7 linked regions of the Homo sapiens genome follow. The protein of the gene in region 2 interacts with the protein of the main gene of each other region in a pairwise test. Each region holds a gene or a part of one and is shown on either strand. Other genes may lie near its edges.

Evidence for each region.
Region 1: the proteins of TRIM14 (region 2) and UNK interact in a two-hybrid assay, tested with the Homo sapiens proteins (one large-scale study listed by BioGRID).
Region 3: the proteins of TRIM14 (region 2) and RLF interact in a two-hybrid assay, tested with the Homo sapiens proteins (one large-scale study listed by BioGRID).
Region 4: the proteins of TRIM14 (region 2) and IVNS1ABP interact in a two-hybrid assay, tested with the Homo sapiens proteins (one large-scale study listed by BioGRID).
Region 5: the proteins of TRIM14 (region 2) and ZC4H2 interact in a two-hybrid assay, tested with the Homo sapiens proteins (one large-scale study listed by BioGRID).
Region 6: the proteins of TRIM14 (region 2) and ALG13 interact in a two-hybrid assay, tested with the Homo sapiens proteins (one large-scale study listed by BioGRID).
Region 7: the proteins of TRIM14 (region 2) and MNAT1 interact in a two-hybrid assay, tested with the Homo sapiens proteins (one large-scale study listed by BioGRID).

The regions. Positions count from the first base shown.
Region 1 is NC_000017.11:75,822,806-75,826,299, forward strand, and holds the end of UNK (RING finger protein unkempt homolog), read left to right. Parts: intron 1-459; coding exon 460-717; intron 718-1,456; coding exon 1,457-1,612; 3' UTR 1,613-2,994; downstream 2,995-3,494. UniProt on the Homo sapiens protein: Sequence-specific RNA-binding protein which plays an important role in the establishment and maintenance of the early morphology of cortical neurons during embryonic development.
Region 2 is NC_000009.12:98,086,038-98,088,222, reverse strand, and holds part of TRIM14 (tripartite motif-containing protein 14), read left to right. Parts: intron 1-217; coding exon 218-753; 3' UTR 754-2,185.
Region 3 is NC_000001.11:40,160,129-40,164,186, forward strand, and holds the start of RLF (zinc finger protein Rlf), read left to right. Parts: upstream 1-1,258; 5' UTR 1,259-1,271; coding exon 1,272-1,508; intron 1,509-4,058. UniProt on the Homo sapiens protein: May be involved in transcriptional regulation.
Region 4 is NC_000001.11:185,295,888-185,298,065, reverse strand, and holds the end of IVNS1ABP (influenza virus NS1A-binding protein), read left to right. Parts: coding exon 1-31; 3' UTR 32-1,678; downstream 1,679-2,178. UniProt on the Homo sapiens protein: Involved in many cell functions, including pre-mRNA splicing, the aryl hydrocarbon receptor (AHR) pathway, F-actin organization and protein ubiquitination.
Region 5 is NC_000023.11:64,917,451-64,920,950, forward strand, and holds part of ZC4H2 (zinc finger C4H2 domain-containing protein), read right to left. Parts: intron 2,804-3,500; coding exon 2,631-2,803; intron 1,755-2,630; coding exon 1,592-1,754; intron 447-1,591; coding exon 333-446; coding exon of another isoform or gene 314-332; 3' UTR 1-313. UniProt on the Homo sapiens protein: Plays a role in interneurons differentiation. Involved in neuronal development and in neuromuscular junction formation.
Region 6 is NC_000023.11:111,726,170-111,729,669, forward strand, and holds part of ALG13 (UDP-N-acetylglucosamine transferase subunit ALG13), read left to right. Parts: intron 1-639; coding exon 640-886; intron 887-1,162; coding exon 1,163-1,276; intron 1,277-1,444; coding exon 1,445-1,601; intron 1,602-2,015; coding exon 2,016-2,136; intron 2,137-3,500. UniProt on the Homo sapiens protein: Catalytic subunit of the UDP-N-acetylglucosamine transferase complex that operates in the biosynthetic pathway of dolichol-linked oligosaccharides, the glycan precursors employed in protein asparagine (N)-glycosylation.
Region 7 is NC_000014.9:60,965,261-60,968,760, forward strand, and holds part of MNAT1 (CDK-activating kinase assembly factor MAT1), read left to right. Parts: intron 1-2,968; coding exon 2,969-3,089; 3' UTR 3,090-3,298; coding exon of another isoform or gene 3,299-3,326; 3' UTR 3,327-3,500.

The sequences.
Region 1 (3,494 bases), on a different chromosome or scaffold from region 2:
GGGAGGACTCGCTTTGCCAGTCAGGACCCTGGGTGGTTACTGTTGTTGCAGGCTTCAAATTCTCTCTGTGAGCTGCTTGTAGTCTGTCCCAGGATCACCTGCCTCCTCCCAGTAGCCTCGCCTCTCCAGGGTTTCAAGTCCAAGGTTCTGGGTTCTGAAATGGGCCCCCTGTCCAGCTGCAGCCGGCTACCCTATGGGTGCTGGCCAGAATCCCAGCTCTACCCTGTGTCCCTGCTGTGCTAGGCCCAGGTCCCTTTCCCTGGCCACAGAGGGGAGAGTCTCCTGCAGGTTCTGAAACCTCTGTGCAGACAGCATCAGCCTCCTCCTTGCCCTCCTCCCAGAGAGCCAACCCAGCTTCCCACCAGGCCTCGCAGCCAGAGTGGCCCCCAAAAGATGATGCTCTCTGGGGACAGGGGCAGGGCAGGGCCATTGTGATGAGACTGTATGCTGGCCCCACAGGCTTGTGATGCCTGGAAGAAAGAGGCGGAGGAGGCTGGTGAGCGGGCCAGTGCGGCGGGCGCCGAGTGCGAGCTGGCCCGGGAGCAGCGGGATGCACTGGAGGTGCAGGTGAAGAAGCTCCAGGAGGAGCTGGAGCGGCTACACGCGGGGCCTGAGCCCCAGGCCCTGCCCGCCTTCTCCGACCTGGAGGCGCTCTCACTCTCCACCCTCTACTCCCTCCAGAAACAACTGCGGGCCCACCTGGAACAAGTGGACAAGGTCAGCCCAGGTCGGGGAGCACTGGGTGGGATGCACGGTGGCCTCAGCCAGCTCTTGGACTCTGACCTGGTCCAGGCTGCTCCAGGGATGGCCACCCTCCTGAGAGCCTCTGCCCAGCACTGGGCCAGCACTCAAAAGGCCGGCCTGCTGGGAATGGGTGAGGAGAGTGCACTGGGGAAGGTGAAAAGGCTGGGGGTGAGGGGTGTCGGTGCCACCCCCAGCACCCCTGAGGGCGGCCCTGACCAAGCTTCTCACAAATGCCTGGGCCCCAAATGCGTCCTCCTGTACACCCTCCATGGAGCAGCGGGCCTTCCAGTGAGGCCCAGGACCCCAGGGCTACCCCTGCCTTCCCAGGTCTCCTGCTGGGTCCCCGGGGCCAACGTGGCATGGTGGGAAGAGCTGTCTTTCCTCTGTTCTCGGGCAGCCAAGCCCCCGGGTGTGGCCCTGGGCATGTCCCAGCCCTTTCTGGGCCTCATTTTCCCCATCTGGGGATTACAAGGTCAAATGAGACTGGGCGAAGCCTCTCTGAGGGGTGGGTCTTGTGGCAGCCTGGCCATGCCCCATGCAGAGGTGGACTCAGCCTGCTCTCTCACCTGCCAACAGGGGTCTGGGAGCACACTGTTGAGCTCGGTACCTCAGTTTTCCCATCCCAAGGGGCTGCAGTGAGGATCAAGGGAACTCCTCGCTCAACTTGGGGCCAGACCCATGGATGGTGACCACGATGCCCCTTTCCCTGCAGGCCGTGTTCCACATGCAGTCGGTGAAATGCCTTAAGTGTCAGGAACAGAAGCGGGCAGTGCTGCCGTGCCAACACGCTGCGCTGTGTGAGCTCTGCGCTGAGGGCAGCGAGTGCCCCATCTGCCAGCCTGGCCGGGCCCACACCCTCCAGTCGTGACCCTGCAGGCCTGGCCCAGCCTGGCCCAGATCTTCTCACCTAGGACTTTTTAAAGTATATATATATATATGAATATATATATATATGTGTATGTATGTATGTATATGTATATGATTATGTATATGTATACATTTCCGTATGTATGTATATGTATACATTTCCGTATGTGTGCAGGTATGCGTGGTGGTGTGGACAGTGTCTGTGTGTATATCTGTACATAGATATAGACACACACTTTAAAAGACTTACCAAGCACTTTTTAAAAGAAGAAACTATTTTGCAGTCCTCCCCTACCCACTCCCTGCCCTTCCCACTGCAGAGATGACATCCCCTCTTCTCCCACTGGCCTTTTGGCAGAGAATCTGGTTCTGTCTCTTTTTTAATGTAGGAACTAACTATTTTTAACTTCTTCCTGGGGCCTGAGCAGGGAAGGGTGGGACTGGAAGGCACTAAGGGGAAGGGAGAAGCCCTCAGGGCAGGCCCTGCTCCCCCTACCTCCTTGCCAGGGCAAGGGTGGAGTGTGGAAGACGTGGGTCCCCCAGAGCAGGCCTGGCCCCCAGCTGTGAGGGCCTCAGGGAGGCCCGAGGGGGAGTGCTGGGGGTCTCAGCTGGCTTAGCTCCTAAGTTTACCAAATGTTAATTTAGTCTTGGGGAGAACAGCAAGGGCTGGAGGCCAGTGCTGCAGGGCCAGCCCCACTCCTGACACCTGGGCCCTTGAAGCTCCTTGAGGGGCAAGGCCCAGGAGTTCCAGCCCTCAGGTTCCTGAGGGTCCACCCTCAGTCCTTCCCCCCGCCGCCCCTCCCCGGACTCCCCACAAGAGCCTCCCTGGCCCCAGGGCCGCCTACCAGGCTGGTACTCATTCTATGACCACCGCCCCCAACCAGCTGCCCCCAGCTCTCCCTGCCCCCTCCCCTCTCTGGCAGCTAGCAGGGCAATTGGCGGGGAGGAGTGCGGACTGAGGACTGAGGACCAAGGGGGCCCAGGCCCTGCCCTCCTACCCGGAGGGGCTCCGTTTGCATTCCTTGGTGCTCTCTGAGTGCAGCTGGTGTCCCGCCCTGTTCTGGGCGGACGCCTGTGTGCGTGTGTGTGTGCCTGTCCAGTGTATATTGTGTCTTAGCTTCCATTTTAAAAATTGTTCTGTACAGAGAGAGATGCAGCAGGGGCGGGAGGGCAGAGTGGGCGGAGGGGAGCAGCCGCACCCCCAGCACCGGGTGTCTGCGGTAGGAACAAGAGGGCTGAGAGGGTCTGGTCCTGGCCCAGGCTCCCCCTTGGGCTCAGCACGAAAGGGCTTTCAATGAATTAAGTGAAAACTTTTTCCTTTTTTACAAAAATGCAAAAATCAACAAAGCTCCAAACCTATTGGAAATAAAATATGAACTTGCAGTGGTAGCTTGTTTACATGGGGGTGAGGGGGAGTGGGTCCCAAAAGAGGGCCTCTGAACTATGAGGTGGGCCAGGAGCCTTGCCTCAGCCATGGAAACGGCTGCTGCCCACACCCCTGAGCTGTGGTAAGGCAGCTGGAGAGGGCTGGAAACTTCCTGGGCCCATCAGGCCCCAAGACAGTTCAAGTGCTCTCCGACCTAGGCCTAGCGGTTGATGACACAGGGACCCTTAGCCTTGGACACAGAGGCCCCCCAGGCCCTAGGACTCTTTAGGGCTGTGTGGTCAGCGGTGACTGGCAATAGGGCCCGTAACTGTTTCTCAGAGGAACAGTGTCTTCCCAACTGGGCATGGTGGCGCATGCCTGTGGTCCCAGCTACTAGGGAGGCTGAGGTGGGAGGATCACTTGAGCCCAGGAGGTCGAGGCGGCAGTGAGCCATGATTGCACAGCTGCCTCCAGCTTGGGTGACAGAGTGAGATCCCATCTCAAAAACAAAAACAGG
Region 2 (2,185 bases):
ACAGTATAAGGGATGTGCAGCAGAGTGATCTCTTCTTCCCCTTTCCCCAAGACCCCGCCCCAGGGGCAGTCGCGGTTTAAAGGGGTCTGTCACCCCTTCCTTGGGCCATTTCCGCGCTTCGCATTTTGTGATTTGCACGTGCGTTGGTGGGTTCCCGGGGGCGGGGCGCCGCGCTGGCCCCGCCCACCAGGTGCGTCCCTTGTCTCGCCCCCTGCAGACGCGCGCACGCCCACGCTGGATCCTGACACGATGCACGCGCGCCTGCGCCTGTCCGCCGATCGCCTGACGGTGCGCTGCGGCCTGCTGGGCAGCCTGGGGCCCGTGCCCGTGCTGCGGTTCGACGCGCTCTGGCAAGTGCTGGCTCGTGACTGCTTCGCCACCGGCCGCCACTACTGGGAGGTTGACGTGCAGGAGGCGGGCGCCGGCTGGTGGGTGGGCGCGGCCTACGCCTCCCTTCGGCGCCGCGGGGCCTCGGCCGCCGCCCGCCTGGGCTGCAACCGCCAGTCCTGGTGCCTCAAGCGCTACGACCTTGAGTACTGGGCCTTCCACGACGGCCAGCGCAGCCGCCTGCGGCCCCGCGACGACCTCGACCGGCTCGGCGTCTTCCTGGACTACGAGGCCGGCGTCCTCGCCTTCTACGACGTGACGGGCGGCATGAGCCACCTGCATACCTTCCGCGCCACGTTCCAGGAGCCGCTCTACCCGGCCCTGCGGCTCTGGGAGGGGGCCATCAGCATCCCCCGGCTGCCCTAGGGGCCAGGACCGGCGTGACAGCCTCCAGGTACGCCGCAGCTGCCCAGTCTCGCCTAATCTACCTAGATCAGCGTGGCTGGTCCCCTTACTGCCTGCTTCTTAGGGCCCTCTCCCTGCCCCAGCTTTCCCCGACCAATCACGCCTACAGTGCTTTGAAGGTTTCCTCTCCTAGGCTAGTTTCAAACAGGCCCTAAACAAGTCTGCTGCTGCCCTCTCATCAGACCTCCGCACCCTCACCCCACCATCACTTACACTACTTTAATCCAGTTCCTTCAAAGTGATACCCCCACAGGTAAGCCCTCAGCATCCTGAATACATCATCCGCAGCCTGGGAACCTTCTCCCTCGTACAGCACAGGAACCTGACACATAGTAGGCACACAGTAAACGTTTGTGAATGAATGGGAGTCATCCAGTCCTGACTCTTCTGTCTCTTGAGGTCCCTTGAATCTTCCGCTTCCTCCCCACCGATTTCAGCGTGTCCACATCACAGCTCCCTCCAGAAGCTGCAAGAGCTTCTTAGCAGTTCCTGGTCTGAACCCTCTCCCAGTCCTCATCTTCCACCCTAAAACTAGAGTGATCTTCCTAAAACTTCACTTAACCCCTCAGCTATGAAAAGGCTTCCAGGAGTTTCCATGAAATAACAAAAAAAAATACAAGCGCCTCACCTTAGCATTCAAGGCTTGTCTAGTCTGCCCAAAATTACTTATCCTCACCTAGCTCCTACCACTCTTCTTAGAGACTCTCCAGTCAGAAATGTGTCGCATAGTTCCACCTCCACACCTCTCTGCTGCCAGCACATTCATGCAGAAAAGTCTTTTCACCTGTCTCAGTCTTCCGCAGGCTTACCTGCGCCAGGAAGTCTAACCAAGGAACAAGAATCTCACTATCAGAGCCACAAATCTGGGACCTGTCTTTCCAACTAAATTGGAGGCTTTGGAAGGGCAGCTTTGTCCTATACTCTCTCCACCCTGAAAAGTTCCCAGAAAGCCCCTTCCCTCCCAAGCAGTGAATTAATAACCAGCAGGTGCCTATCACTGAGTAACAGAAGAGCTGAGTTAGGCGGGCCTCACAGGTCACCCAGCCAGATCTCATCTGGGGAGTCTGAGGTCCTGAAAGAAAGCAGAGCTGCGTAAAGTTACCCCGGGGTGATATAGGGGGGCCAGACGTGTGCCCCGTTCACCCACCCCCAGGCAAGCATCTGACCTGTCCCCTGGCCCAGCCCTTAGGCCCAGCTTTCAACCTGCTTACTCATTTCTCAGGGGATTTTGGGAAGGAATCAGCAGGTGACAGTTGCTAAGCAACCAAAGGGGGTGGTGTTTCCCAACTGTCTTGGGACAAAAAGGGTAAGAGCACCCTTAGATCCAGATGTTGCCAAGGAAACCCAGAGTGCCCAGCTGTCTGGAATGAAGTGACAGAGGTAGAAAACAGTA
Region 3 (4,058 bases), on a different chromosome or scaffold from region 2:
CAGTGAAACCCCGCCTCTACTAAAAATACAAACATTAGCCAGGCATGGTGGCGGACGCTTATAGTGCCAGCTACTTTGGGAGGCTGAAGCACGAGAATCACTTAAACCTGAGAGGCAGAGGTTGCAGTGAGCCTAGATCGTGCCACTGCACTCCAGGCTGGGTGACAGAGTGAGACCCTGTCTCAAAAAACAACAACAATAAACAATGGTTATATATATGGGGAATATCATTTAGTCTGTGGCTTGTCTTTGTGTGCTTTTTCAACTTGTTATACGGAAGTAACACATTTTAATACAGTCAAATCTAAATATTTTCCCTTATGGTTTGTGCTTTTCCGGTCTTATTAAGAAATTCTTAGCCGGGCGCGGTGGCTCACGCCTCTAATCCCAGCACTTTGGGAGGCTGAGGCGGGCGGATCACCTGAGGTCAGGAGTTCGAGACCAGCCTGACCAACATGGAGAAACCCCATCTCTACTAAAAATACAAAATTAGCCAGGTATGGTGGCGCATGCATGTAATCCCAGCTGCTCCGGAAGCTGAGGCAGGAGAATGTTTGAACCAAGGAGGCGGAGGTTGCGGTGAGCTGAGATAGCACTGTTGCACTCCAGCCTGGGCAACAAGGGTGAGACTCCGTCTAAAAAAAAAAAAAAAAATTCTTCCCTATTTTTGACATTATAAAGCTATTTTTATTTTCTGAAAAATGTTTGCAGGTCTTTAATCCATCTCGGCCTTATTTTTGGAAATGGTTTGAGGTAGAAATCTAATCATTTATTTCCCTTTTGGAAAAAATGTCTCATCGCCATTTATTGAAGAGTCTGTCCTTTCGCCCACTGACTTGTAATGCCGTCTGTATCATAAACCAAGTTCCCTTGATGTTACTCTTCATTTCGGCCTCACAATCTTTGCTTATTTTCCTTCTACCAGGGATGCTTTTCGCTATGTTCCTTTCAGGGCTACCTTCCTCTTGTCCCTTCAGATCGCAGTTCAAATGTCATCCCCCTCAAATCTAGATTGCTCTACAGGCATTTCTGGCTCCGTGATCCCATGACCTCAAAGGGGTCTAGGTGGGCATAGCCTCTAGCCAGTTGTTGCTAGGCTGTTGTCAGGACTGGCGATGCGTAGGCCACTGAGAGCACCCGGAGTCCGAGTGACGGAATCAGGCGGGCGCCCGCGTCGCTAAGGAGTGCGTCACAGTGCGCGGGCGGCCGGGGGCAGGGCCAGGGCTGAGTCACGTGGCTTGGTTGCCTACGCGCTGGTGGGCCGTGGGAAGATGGCGGACGGAAAGGGAGACGCCGCCGCTGTCGCCGGGGCTGGGGCTGAGGCTCCGGCGGTAGCGGGAGCCGGAGATGGAGTCGAGACTGAGTCCATGGTTCGGGGTCATCGCCCCGTATCTCCAGCGCCGGGAGCCTCGGGACTGCGGCCGTGTCTGTGGCAGCTGGAGACAGAGCTGAGGGAGCAAGAGGTGTCGGAGGTCTCATCTTTGAACTACTGCCGGAGCTTCTGCCAGGTGAGGGGCTGACTGGCTGGCTGAGGGCGGCGGGGCGGGGAAGTCAGGGAAGGAGGCCCTGGATCCTCTGTAAGCAGCCGGGTCCAAACTGAAAGGCGCCACCTCCGTGACTCGCCGCGCCCCCGGGCCGGGAAGGCCCAGCTCGGAAGCTCGACCGCTGGCCCCCCTGCGCCACTGCCCGACTTTGGCCACCGCTGGGTCGTTTTGCTCTGAGCCTTACTGAGATCCCGGAGGGCCCTGGCGGGTCCCTGGAAGGGCTGTGCCCTGTCGCCGTTGCCTGTGTCCTGGCCGGGTGGTTGGAGCGCCACTGCCCCCTGAGGGATTGATTGCTTGTCCCTGCCGGGAGATCCTTTTTTGAGTGGAGTGCAGATCTCCGAACTGGTAAACCCGGGTTTTTCTGAATAATCCAGAGAGGTGTGTTGGGGCCAGAGACTTATTTTTGGAGTTAACATCTTCTGGGCTCCTAAAAGGTATGACAGTTGGCTTCGAAAGGCGTCTAGAGCTTTCTGATTAGGGATTGCGGAGCCGGTTGGTTGTTTGGTTTTTGCTTTTTTTTTTTTTACGTTTAAGCCGTTCTTTCGTCTTTTCTGTATTTCTTTGAGAGGATTGTGCTACCGAGAATAAGGCTGACTCTTTGAGTAGAAGAGGATGGGAAGAGGGATGTAGAGTGTGGCCTCTTTTGGCAGTCGTATGATCATTTCTGTGCCTTGGTGGGTCCTAACCTATGATTACATATTTATGGGTGTGTTTAGTTTAGTCTCCATGACCACTCCGAGATTTTTCTGTATGTTTTCAAGTCTTTTACAAATACAAATATTGGCCATTATTATTTCTGCTTCCAATGTTTGTTCTGTCAGGTTTCAGAGGCACCCATCAGCTCCTTATCTGTTGTACCTTAGAAAATGCAAAATAATCGTGGCATGTTGGTACTTGGAGTCTAATAAGTAGTCCAGTATGCTGAATAAATTGCGGCGTTCTAAAATAATAATTTTGGGGGGCAATTTGCTCTGTTGGTCCGGAGTAGAATAAAAGTTAGCTTGCTTGATTGCTTTTCTTCCCTCTCTCTGCCGAGGCAGAAGCACCTCATCTCTCTGAATGGAATTTTGTCCTTACTAATCTTTTCCGTGGATTGTACCACTCCAATTTTTGTGTGTACAACCTGCAACATTGCCCTGTACTATTAAATGTTAACGTGTTGTTGTTCTCTGCTTCCTTAGTAGTAGTCATCCCTGTTTAGTAAGCTCATTTATTTTACAGATTTTTACTGACTTCATAGGATAGTGCCAGGGACTTTACCAAGTGCTGGGGAAACATGAGTAAGACAGCACTTAGCCTTGATGAACTTACAGTTGGTGGGAGGTGGTAGGAATGACAGTATTTCCAGTGCGGTTTTGGTAATGATGGAAAAGGAGGTGTTGTAGAGACAATGGTGAGGAGAGAGCCTTCATGGGATATCCTGATGGGAAAGACAATTAACTAGAAAAATAAGTAAAAAGGTTAATTATAAATTGTAGTATGTGCTTAGAAAGAAGTAACTGGGAGAGGCCACTTTAGTTAGTAAGACCCTATGGGCTGCAAGGATGAAAATGAGTCACGTGAAGGTCTGGGGTGGGGAAAGCATCCCAGTGCCAAAGGTAGAGATTGGTAAGGACCCAGAATGCTATGGGAGGAGGGGAAACTAATGGAAGGAGAGGGGTGGTGCAGGAAAACAACTGTGGGTTTTGGGTAAGGCTTCTAAGCTTGAGTTGTCTCCCTGGAAAGATGACAAGAATGAATGTAACCAGTCACATTGAAGCTTGTCAAAGGATCACATATATATGTATTCTGCTTTATGTCTAGTGCTTGCAACTGCAGTTTTGTTTAAGGTAATGTTTTAATGTCTTGAGTCTTGGTGACACCAGAGATGTGATGGCCCAGAAGAATTTTTAAAAGAAAGCATGTGTAATTTGTCTTTTCTATGAAGTTTTTTTTAACCTAAAATTTTCCCAAAAAATGTTTTTTAGACTAATAAATGAAACAAGAACAAGTATTCCTGTAACACTGTATTGTAATAGAAAGCACATGGGATTGGGAGTTAAGTTGGGTCTTGACTGTGACTTTACCACTGCTTAGCTAATAACCTTGGGTAACCATGTCTGCAAAACTATCTTATTTTCTGACCTTTATCTCCTTATAATGCTTTATACAATCAGAATAGAAAATTTGTGTACAAGTCTTCACAAAATTTATCATATTTTTGACACATTTTCCCCTGTAGTCCAGATAAGATCAACTGTGTCCTTGATGACCAGATAGAGAAAAAGTAAAAATTGTATGAAGAAGCAGGAAAATTTTCACCATCAGTAAATTTTGTTGAATAGCTCTTGGTTTCACATTTGAAAAGAAGAATAAGATATATTCATTTACTTAAGGAACACTGATTGTGTGACAGTTCTGAAGGTGGGAGCCTAGTTAAGACAGTTTTCTCGGACTCTAGGAGAGGAGCACATAATATATAAAGATAGATTGTAGGCATTTTTACATTATAAAGGTCTGACCCCTGCTTATGGG
Region 4 (2,178 bases), on a different chromosome or scaffold from region 2:
GAGCCCCTATACAAAGATTTTCCAGTTTTAACAAATTTAAGACCCTCTCAAACTAACAGGCTTAGTGATGTAATTATGGTTAGTAGAGGTACACTTGTGAATAAAGAGGGTGGGTGGGTATAGATGTTGCTAACAGCAACACAAAGCTTTTGCATATTGCATACTATTAAACATGCTGTACATACTTTTTGGGTTTATTTGGAAAGGAATGCAAAGATGAAGGTCTGTTTTGTGTACTTTTAAGACTTTGGTTATTTTACTTTTTGGAAAAGAATAAACCAAGAATTGATTGGGCACATCATTTCAAGAAGTCCCCTCTCCTCCACATTTGTTTTGCCAATTTGCACATTAAATGACTCTTCCCTCAAATGTGTACTATGGGGTAAAAGGGGTAGGGTTTAAAGATGTAGACAGTTGGGTTTTTTAAGGGCCCTTTTTCAATAACTGGAACACTCTATAACAAAGGATACTTATTTAAATAGATGACATTGACTATTTTTGTTTTTATTAAAAGGAAGCTTACATGCCTACCAATATTTAATCTTTTATGATTGCCTTTTTATAACTTTTTATATTCTCAGCAGAGTGCTTTACCAATTGAAGTAAAATGTGGCAGGCTGGAGTTATTGAAGCAGAGTGGCAGTCTTCAGTTTGCAGAGTAGGGGTCTGTCTTTTAAACTCTGAGTGCAAACTTCAGAGTTCTTGCCTTGGCTGCAGTTTTTTTCCTTCAAGAATGCAGTACTAACATTTATTTGAGTGGAGTTACTGAACAGTAACATAGCTGTGATTTTTGGTATTTGAAACACTGGTTTTAAATATTTTGACTTGTTGAGGGTATGTTTTATATAGCAAGACATTATATAGCAGTAAAAAATGGTGTTTTATCTTCTATATAATTCCTGTTTTTATTATTAACAAAACAGTCCTAAATAGCAGCCCTCAATTGTGAAAAAATTTACTTTAAACTACATTAGGTTGTGAATGCAGGTTTTATCAGAACTATGTTTTTGTTCAGTTTATCTGTTCATATGGATAAATATTGGTTGGGATGACTTGGTGTCTAATGTGTAGTGCTACACACCTAACTTATGGGGCCAAAATAGCATGTCCTAATGCTTGCTGCTGATTTAAACACATTAAAGGTACTTTGCAGGAAATCCTTGCACCATGGGATTAATATCCAATTGCTGCTTGTACACTCATTCATTACTAAAAGTTTTGAGAAATTTTTTTTTCCAGTAATGAGCTTAAGAAATTTGTGGAAAATAACTCACCTGGCATCTTACATCTGAAATAAGGAATGATATAAGGTTTTTTTTTCTCACAGAAGATGAAGCACACAGGAACCTAATGGGCCAACTGGGATGAGGTGACTATTCTGAGATGACTATTCAGTGGCTAACTTGGGTTAGGAAGAAAATAATTAGGTATTTTCTCCAAATGTTCACTGGTACTCTGCCACTTTATTTCTCTCATCTGTTACACAAAGAACCACCAGGAAAGCAAATCAGTTTGGTTGGTAACTCTGTAATTCCTAACTATCACTGGTTTGGTTCTGGACTAAAACTACATTGACAGATTGAATTTGCCTAATATGATGACTGTTTTTAATATGGATCTGTATGTGTTCTATTCAGCACAAGGAAATAAAATTTTAGTTGAGGATTCAGCACTAAAATCCTTGAGATCACTTCTCATTTCATAAGTGACATGCTTAATGCAAATAATATATGGGAATACTTTGGGTCAAAGTTTTCCTGCATTACCTTGGATGCCAAAGAGGTAGTTTGGTGGCCAAAAAGTATCTTTTTTTAAGAAGCTGTTGTAGCTAGTCTGCATGAACATGAGAAGTTTCCATAAAGGAAAAAAAGCAGTGCTCAGTGGCCATTTGTTACTGTTAATCTGTATCTAAAAGGTACATACTTTCTTCAGAGAGGGAGAAAATGGCATAGCCTCAGCACAATTTAAAAAAAAAAAAAAGCTTTTTAACCAGTAGGAATTTTTGAATAGTTTCAAAATAATATTGATAATACCACACTTCTGGTCAACTTAATAAAACACTCTAAATTTCCTAAAAAGGTAGAAAAGCTATAAAATATCTAAACCAAATATTATTGGTTATACTCGGGTGGATCTTTTATTATGAACTTTAAATGTAGGGTTCTGATTTTTGGCTTC
Region 5 (3,500 bases), on a different chromosome or scaffold from region 2:
TTAGGCTCCAGGCCTCAGGCACAAGAGATAGAGAATCATATCTGAGCCTTTTGCCCTTCCCTTAGCTCCAAACAAGGGCAGGGGTTGAAATGTGAGTGGGAGAGAAGGGATCATCAGACACACTGTTTAGCACCTGAACCACATCTCTTCCTAAACCAGAAATCCCAAGAGCAGAAAGAAATAGGAGCAAAGTGAGAGAGGGGTTGTGCTTCCATCACATTAAATAGGAGACTTCGTGGGGTTGGGCAAGGGTTGTTTCACATCAGGACATCAATGACTCTGGTCAAGGTGAGGGGTTATAATTAGCAAAGCTTCATGTGCTCTCCCTTTCTTTATTCATCCTGCTTCCGTTTCGGCTTTTTGGGGTTCCGGGACCGACTCTTGGCCTTGCAAAGAGGGCATATAGGTGCATTCCGGTGAATTTGCTGGTGACATGACAAGCAGGCCTGGTGAGGGACACAGGAAAAAGAAAGTTAGTAGTCAGATTCTTCCAGGCAACAACTTAGACTTCTGATTCCCCAGGGGCCCAGAAAGCAAAGTGATTTCCCATCAGAAGAGAGCAATAATCAGTGAGTAGACTCAAGTATTCTTGGATGCCATGGAAGATGGGAAGGAAGGACATAACCCAGTTCAGAGAATGGTGTTGAGAAAAAGTATACAAAACTAGAAAGTAAGGCAAAATGAGAACTACACATCTTTTCGTCATTATAATGAAGCATTGTCTAACAGGCCCACTTAAGGACTATTTAATTTTCTAGAACAGGGGTCAACAAACATTTTCTGTAAAGGCCAGGACAGCAAATACTTTAGACTTTTTACATCATATAAACTTGCTGCAACTACTCAATTCTGTTTTGCATGAAAGAAGTGATAGACAATAGCTTGCATGCATGTTGTTTGCAATAGCTTGCAAACACAGACATGCATGTGGGCCAATAAAACTTTAACGAAAACAGGGAACAGATTAGATTTGACCTGTAGGCTGTAATTTGATGACCCCTGCTCTAGAAGAATGTCTCTTTGTTTGACTATTTACCAATTGATTAGGACCCAGGCTCTGTGATGTTACACTGATAAGCTGCAAATGGCTTTTGCCCAGTAGAGATGCAAATTACTTCTGTTTGGAAGAAAAAGTAACTATAAAGTTACAGTTTTATTGTCCTGTGGGATGTAAACCAGTTTTGCATCTAACTTTGCAAATTTGTTTCAGCCTTCCTCTCCTTTCTTGACTATATAGATATTTGTTCCAAATGCTCCTGGAACCAGCTTTATAATCCTGCTGGTTCCCTCATTTATGATACATGCTCATTACATCTTTGTGTAAGAGTCATTTCTAACTTTTAGAATTGCACTCTAGCAGGGCCTGAAAATCTCCCTGCATTCTAACACCTCTGGGAACATGGGGCAACAAAACCTGTGCTGTGTGTGTCCAACACAGCACACCCATGTCACCCCTTCCACTGTGTCACAAGCAAAGGCCATTAAAAGAAGGCCCAGCATAAATAAAGCCAAAGACCCAGAACTAGCCTTCCACGGCCCTTCCATGGGAGGATACTTTGCTTCCTCCACAACCATTACCCAGCTCACTTACCTTCATAGGTGGGGGCTGCTGCCTGAAGGTGGCCGTCTGCCGAGTATCCTGCTTCCTAGCCACTTGGAGCTGTTGGGCGGCAGCGGCTGCAGCGGCCAGGGACTCAGGGATGGGGGGCTCCTGAGGTTCTGTCTGCCATTCTGCTTTCTGCTTCTCAAAGTAACTTTGGAGATGAGAGACACTGGCTAGATCATTCTGAAAGCAATGAGAACCTTGCTCCTCTTAAAGACTCCATGCCATACAACCAAGGGTTGAGCTGTGGCTCATTCTAGAAGGTCCCCACACCTTCCCAAGCACAAGGCTATTGTCCCTGGGTACTAGGCCCAATGTCTGATGAGAAGGGTAATCCTCTTTGTCCTTAGCTCTGATAGGCCAAGAAGACCAAGAAATCTTAGGGCTAGCAAGATCCTTAAAGGGTATTCAGTCCTATCTGCTATCTCATGCTCTTTTGAGTATTCCTATTAAGTGTCCTAAGGCCTCTGGTGACATATCTCTAAGAGTAGGAAGCTCACAAACTCCACAGACACCTTGCTCTACCTTTAGGAAATGATTTCCTCTACCAGGTCAAATTCTGTCTCTCTGCAAGGCAAGCCTAGTTCTTAACTCTGAGCCAGGAGATGAAGTAAGTCCCAGGCCACTTCCTGAAGACCAGGAAAGCTCAGTCTTTTTTGTTTTTAGAGGTTTCTAGATATCGCCTTCTAGACCCTGACTTGGGAAATGATCTCTTAAGAGTTATAGACATAGTCTTGTATTGTCAATATCACACAAAGAATTTAAAAAGCCACCTAGTAGTTGTTCTAATTCATCTAGTAATTCATCCAGTTTAATAATCCTCCTTCTGTTTTAACAAGCTGGCACAGAGACTTGCCCAAGATCACACAGTGAGTAAGCCACTGAAAGGCCTGGGACTAAAACTAGGCACTCTGACTTTCAGGCTAGGCTTTGTGTATGTATACCTGCCCGTGTGTGTGTAGGTATGTAAGTATGTATGTGGGTCGGAGGGAGGGTATGTTGTAGGGACTGGGGGCAGGTAGCTTACTCCAAGGAAAGCTTCTCCTCTTCTTCACACAAGTCAGGGAGCCTCTGCAGGCCCAGAGTCATGCGCAGGGCATCCACATGTTCTTTCAGTGGCTTATACTCATCATGCAGCCTCCTTGTAGACTCTAGCAGCTTGTTTAGGTCATTCTCAGATTGTTTGATAGTGTTTTCCATCTGGAACATAGAGTGGGATAGGCACAGAGAAAAGATCCTAAGGTTCTCAGAGAGGATCTATAGCTGAGTGAATAATAGCACAAGCTCCAGAACTTGTTCAGTCTATATTCAAGTCCTTGATCTCCCATGCCCTCTCCATGTAACTCTGGTCAAGTCTCAGTTTCTTCATCGGTATAATGGTGATATTCTAGTGCTTAACTCATGCAATCTTGGTGAAGATGTAATGATAGGATTCATATAAAGCACTCAGTAAATGGGCTAAATTAATATTTACTGCTAAATAAATGGTATTGTTCAAATATAGTATCTTAGAGCTGGAATGTCCTTCAGAGCTCATTTAGTCCACCTTACTCCCATTTTATAGAAAACTGAGGCTCAAAGAGAAAAAGGGACTTTCCTGGGGAAATACTTCTTAGTATCAAATCCTGCATAAAGACTTAGGGCTTCCGCCTCCCAGGCCAGCAGTCTTTTCTCCTAGATCAGTGATTCTCAAAATGTGGCCAAGGGATCAGCAGCATCAGCATCACCTGGGAACTCAGAAATGCATATTCTTAGGTTCACCTCAGACATACAAAATCAGAAAATCAGGGGTGGAGTCTAGCAATATGTGTCTTAGGCTCTCAAAGTGGCTTTGATGCATGCTCAAGTTTGAGATCCACTGGCTTATATTCTTAGCCCTTCTGGCAAATATCTTCCT
Region 6 (3,500 bases), on a different chromosome or scaffold from region 2:
CTCCTGACCTCGTGATCTGCCCGCCTCGGCCTCCCAAAGTGCTGGGATTACAGGCGTGTTTTGTTTTTTTTTTTTTTTTTTTTTGAGACAGTCTCACTCTGTCGCCCAGGCTGGAGTGCAGTTGTGCGATCTTGGCTCATTGCAACCTCCACCTTTCGGGCTCAAGCAATTCTCCTGCCTCAGCCTTCTGAGTAGCTGGGATTACAGGCGCACGTTACCACGCCTGGCTAATTCTTGCATTTTCAGTAGAGACGGTTTCACCATGTTAACTAGGCTGTCCTTGAACTCCTGACCTCAAGTGATCCACCCACCTCGGCCTTCCAAAGTGCTGGGATTACAGGCGTGAGCCACCGTGCCTGGCCATGGATGACTCAGTGTTTTGATGACCTATACTAACCTGCCCATGCTGGGGATAGTGCCGAGATATACCCATTGATACAGAAATTACCTGCTGGTTTTGTCCTTCCAAATAAAAGATCTAGTATATCCTTCAAAAATACAAAAATTCCCTCCCTATGTTTATTTGGTTTGTTCCTAGGGGAAGCATTGGAAAGTTTAAGGCAGTGTGGTGGTGACAGTACACTGGGCCTTTTGCTTTGATTATGAAGCTTATTTGCTACCTCTTTGTTTGCCTGAAAGTTATATCAGAGATGGACATAAAGCAACAGAAGAAGATGTTCAAGAAAATTCGAGGGAAAGAAGTTTACATGACTATGGCTTACGGCAAGGGAGACCCCCTCCTCCCACCCAGGCTGCAGCACAGTATGCATTATGGGCACGATCCTCCAATGCACTACTCACAGACAGCTGGCAATGTTATGTCTAATGAACATTTTCATCCTCAGCATCCATCTCCGAGACAAGGTCGGGGATATGGGATGCCCAGGTAAGACATTGACAGATTTGTATTTTCATGGTCTAGGGAAATATGAAGCAATTGAAGAGATCCAAGAAGATAGAATGCCATCAAGATGAGGGTCTCTGTGACATACAGACTGTATTTCATTAATAATAGTTAGCCCTAATGCCAGTATTGCAGAGAGCAGAGCTCTTTCTAGTTGAATGTTTTTAGAAAGACAGATTAGTTCTATTTAACTACAGAGACTGACTACTTAGGTATTAGTGAATAGAGAGTTCTAGTTTCCTTTCTCTTTATTCTTAGGAATTCATCTCGGTTTATAAACAGGCACAACATGCCGGGCCCTAAAGTTGATTTTTACCCAGGCCCAGGTAAAAGGTGCTGCCAGAGCTATGATAACTTCTCTTATAGATCTCGGTAAGTATTGTGTTGAAAGTCAGAGAAAATTGGTAAGTCTGATTTCATTGCTGAACATTAATGTTTTAAAAAGTGTCAACTTTGAGATATTTGAACTGTTATTTAGAAATTAGGAACAAGTTACTATATTTCATCATTTTTACTTTTTTATTATTTGAACCACTTAAGTTCATTTAGACGTAGTCACCGCCAGATGAGTTGTGTGAATAAGGAGTCCCAGTATGGATTTACCCCAGGGAATGGACAGATGCCCAGGGGCTTGGAAGAAACTATTACTTTTTATGAAGTTGAAGAAGGGGATGAGACTGCTTATCCAACTTTACCTGTGAGTGGATCAATGCTTTACTCAAAAAGCTGTTTACTTTTTTCATTTATTTTTTTGAAGTAAAGGCAATGTGGATAAATTTTAGATTTTGTACAAATAACCAAACAAAGCCTTTTCTGGAAAATGAAAATGAGAAAAGAGACATTTTCTCCCAGCTGTTCCTAGAGAAGGGAATAGAGGTAGACTTGATAATCTTGCCTATAGAGTATGGGTTAATATTTTCTATTTTCTTGATTTTTACTTCATATTTTTTGTATTCTAAACTGCATGGAAAACATTTAATTACAGAGTTCTCTTACAATAGCAGTTCACATTGTTAGGCTAGTTTTTAAACTGCCTTTTAAAACATCCCTCTAGCTTTTTTTTCTGACTATATAGTGAGAACTGCAGTGTGTGTGTGTCTCTCTGATACAGAATCATGGAGGTCCCTCTACAATGGTTCCTGCTACTTCAGGATACTGTGTTGGAAGGCGGGGACATAGCTCAGGCAAACAGACTTTGAATTTAGAGGAGGGCAATGGCCAGAGTGAAAATGGTGAGTCAATTACAGTTAAATATTTTTTAAAAGATTCTTGTGGCATTAGCACATCAGGCCAGTGAAGTAGACCAATTTGGTTTTGGCGTCTCTCTCTGTTCCAGTAGCTTAGTTCTGAAAGATTTATATAAGTTCTTAATGCTTGCTGGGTTTTTGAATATGTCCTGGTATTTCTCAGAAGAGTAGACTTCTATTTCATTAGGCTGCTACATTGTTATAACTTGTTTTCAGCTCTCTGCATAGGTCTTTAGTGAGTTTTGACTTGGTGTCAGATATCAGTATGGAAAACATCTATTCGTTGTTAGTAGGGCACTATTGATAGTTGTCCTCACCATTTGTATATGTTAGGCTTTTCGTGTGACTGGCTATTATTTTTTAAGACTACTATGAAGTAACTATTCGATAGTTACTTCATACTATGAAGTCTATTTGATCTATAAACATTACTCTTTATTGAACCCTACGTGATACCCACTCTACTAAGTCATTATATTCATAATATAGTCCTTCGTGTGCTCTTCTGAGGAATGTGCTGTCCCTATTTTACATATGAGGAAATTGAGATTCAGAGGGTAAATGACATGGCTAAGGTCATATCCTTGGTAAATGGCAGAGATATAATTTTTTGTAACTTTTATTGAGATATAATTTACATATCATACAATTCAGCTATTTAAAGAATACAATTCAATGGTTTTTTATTCAGAGTTGCATACCATCAACACAATTAATACTAGGACATTTTTATCACCACAATAGAGAAATCCTGTGCCCATTAGGAGCCATTCCCCATTTGCCCCAACCCCCAGCCCTTGGCAACCATCAGTCTGTTTTCTGTCTTTATGGATTTGCCTCTGCTGGACATTTTTTATAATTGGAATCGTATACACACACATAGCCTTAACAGTTTTTATGTTGACTCCTACCATGGAATGTGTTTATTTTTACCTTGTTACTTTTAAAAGATACTGTATATCCCTATTGAAACAATTGTGGAGCATTGAGTGGCTTAAGGAGGTGTCAGGCATTCCTAATGACTTGACTTATGAATAAGTTCCTTATTTTCTTGTACTCTTTTTTTCTACTAGTGTAGAAAAAAAATAGATATTTTTAGGAATTTAATGAGTAAAAAAATCTAGTGCAAGAATGATCTGTGAAAACTTTGTACGTGTGTGCATGCGTGTGCTTAAGGACATTTACTGTCTGCTCTCTTATTTAGATGACCCTTTTGTCTTTTAGCTCTATGGGTAGTGTGGCATATTTGAAATAACCAAATCTTTGCTCCCACCTTAAATCTGGAGGAGTTTCATGCGTGTGTGTTTGATAAGTGGTGTGTTTAAGAATCAAATTTAGTTTAGAACTGC
Region 7 (3,500 bases), on a different chromosome or scaffold from region 2:
CTGGATTATGACTATGTTCAAGAAATACTATTTTCAAGCACTAATCATTTAGATAAAACTTTTTTTACACATTTATGGCATCAAGGAGTATGACTGTTTATAACATTTTACCTATAAAGCTGAACTGTTTTATATACTCTTTATGGAAACATGGCCATAAATTAAAAGATGCAACTGTTTTGAATATTTTACTGGTGGTCCTCTGTTTTCCTGCCAGCAGTGCAGCTGTTTCAGGTTTCTCAGGATAACATATAAAAAGCTGTATGCACACTGCAAGTTTATGCTCAAATTGCCAAGCCAGATATGGTATGACTCAACTTTCCCAGAAGCAAGCTGTACCAAAATGTGATGAATCAAAACAGTTAGTTGCACAGTGGTTTGTATTACAGCTATGAAAACCAATTCTCATTTATGATGTTTGGCTTTTCAAGGTTGACAAACATTCTACTGTGGTGCTTGAATTTTACCATAAGTGAACATCTATTGAAGCTAAGACTATGCTTTTCTTTTGAGGATCTGAGGAAAGGAAAGGGTGATACATTATCATCTGGTGTGCGGATAAAAATTAGCTGGAAACTTGTATCAGGAATGGAACATTTCATTTCCAAGTTACCTATAAAAATATTACTCACTTATTATTTGTATGATAGTTATTGAATTCCCTGTGAAGCCAGGTTAATTTTTAGACCTTTCTGAGGTAACTTAACATTTACTTCATTTCTCATGCATCAGAATCTTAACAGTTGATACTTTATTGTGTCTTGGAAAGTAATAAGCAGATAACTTTATGGCCATGGGGTAGGTGTGGTGAATCCCTATTTCAATCCTATGCGACCTAAGGTTCTATCAAGAGTTTAACAACGACTATTTTTCTTTTTTTTTTTTAAACAGGGTCTCACTCTGTTGCCCAGGCTGGAGTGCAGTGGTGCGATCTCCGCTCACTGCAACCTCTGCCTCATGGACTGAAGTGATTCTCTTGCCTCCCAAGTAGCTGGATTACAGGCACCTGCCACTGTGCCTGGCTACTTTTTCTATTTTTAGTAGAGACGGGGTTTCACCATGTTGGCCAGGCTGGTCTGAAACTCCTGTCCTCAGGTGATCCACCTGCCTCGGCTTCCCAGAGTGCTGGGCTCACAGGTGTGCGCCACCACACCCAGACAACAATGACTAATTAATAATAGTAGTCTCTAAAGTGGGATGTGTCCCATGAGGATATGTAAGATACAGTATATGGAGAAAATATTAAAACATTCATTCATTAATTTATTTAGAGATGGAGTCTCGCTGTGTCACCCAGGCTGGAGTGCAGTGGCGAAATCTCGGCTCACTGCAACCTCCACCTCCTGGGTTCAAGTGATTCTCCTGCCTCATCCTCCTGGGTAGCTGGGATTACAGGCATGTGCCACCACGCCCAGCCAAGTTTTTGTATTTTTAGTAGAGATGGGGTTTTGCCATATTGGCCAGGCTGGTCTTGAACTTCTGACTTCAGATGATCCGCCCACCTTGGCCTTCCAAAGTGCTGGGTTACAGGTGTGAGCCACTGTACCCAGCCAGAACTTTTATTTAAATATTTTTATTTCATCCTTTTTCTATTTATATTTTTATATTACACTGACTATATTAGTATCTTATGTATATAATTATATATAGTAACATATAGTACATTAGTATTCTACATAAAACATATCTGAGATATGTTTTATGGCTATAAAATACTATCAAAAATGTTTTTGTTTTTGTTCAATAAATATTCTCTTCTTCCTTCCGCTTTCCCCTTTCGCCCTTGGCAGAGAAGCAAATAATTGAGTTAAAACCTTGATTTGTGGCAATGTGAATAAATTATAGCTAATTCCAGGAACTTAGCTGCATCCTACCTTGACCCATTTTTTCTACTGGACTCTTATATTGCTCTATATGTTTTAGCTACACAGGTTTATTAAACATGGATACAGATGAAAAACAGACTTGTTATGTTAGAAGTTATAAGTTGCTCATGCATTAAGATTTTGACACACAGGAAGTTTGAATGAATGAGTGAAAAAGGTTCCAAGTTATTAAAATGTTCTGGTACCTGATTTATTCATTTGCCATACCAGTAATTCTAAGGTGGGTGAAGCTCCTTTACTTCCTGAAGAAACAAGTTAGTTTCTTAAACTAAGCATTAAAAGAAAGCTGGAATTATTTGTTTCCAGAAGTGTTAGTAGTCATGCTAAGTTGCCCTTCTTTGGCTAGATTGTCCAATGTTTTTTAGGCCTGTTTTGTCTATTTTTGTCAAGATATAAATGTTTAATTGCTTTAAAAAAACTGTGTGGTTGCAGAAAAAAATTGTACTGTTATATTGTTGAGATCAATGAGACTTTTCTGTATTTACTTTTTCAGACATTATTTTGAACTCAGGCTCAGTCTCAGAGATTTCTTCAACATGTAATTTTCTAATGTTTCCTTTCCTGCAAGGAATGAGACAATATATTCTTGGAATATTAAAGTACTTTTGAAGTAACTCATACGTTTTCTCCCCTCTTCCATTTGTTTAGCTATTGAGGGTTTGCTTTAAAACAAATTTATGTAGAAATATCAGTACTATAATAGTATTGTGATACTGTGTATTTCTTAAGCATATGCCAGGAAGGAGAGCATTAGTTAGGTGTCCAAAAAACAGCCAACAAAACAAATCAGCTCTGAAAATCGTGAAGCAGTGAATATTTTAGAATTATTTTTGAAACCTCTTTCAGAACTGTTTTTAGACCCCGTGGTAATTTGCTATGTAATTTAATACTAGTTTAGGCACTCCATGTACAGTTGGTATGTTTCCTTTTGAAAGATAATAATCTATTTATAATAAAAGTCTGAATATTTCAATCTCGGAATTCCTCTTTAAAACTTGAATCAGTTTTACTATTGCTTTTTAAAATGTTACCTATTTATATTTGCTTTGTATATCAATGCTACACTTCTTGTTTTGTTTTAGGTATTTAAACCATGTCAGAGCTGCCTCACCACAGGACCTTGCTGGAGGCTATACTTCTTCTCTTGCTTGTCACAGAGCACTACAGGATGCATTCAGTGGGCTTTTCTGGCAGCCCAGTTAACCATTTATAAGATTTGGACCTTGGAGCTGAACCAGGGAGCTAGCAAAAGTAAAGCAGACTTATAAAATTATAGCTATGTGCAGCTGCACAACACAGTCCTTCCACTAGCAGCTGTGTTAAAGTATTTATAAGGAGAAAATTTCAGAACTAAGTTGAGTAATATAGGGGATATATATTTGTGAAAAATAATTTTTACTTATATTTTTCAGAGGATTTGACACGATAAGCCTCATCTGATGGAAGAGAGGAATAAATAATTCACCTATATGTGTTTGAGGTTGTGACAGACTTATAAAATCTTTTTAAAAAATAAAGCTATAATTTATATTAAGTTCTGTGGTTTTTCTCTTATTACAGTGTTTTACTTGAACACATTTTAAATACCATTTTGATTACAACATTTACTGTTAA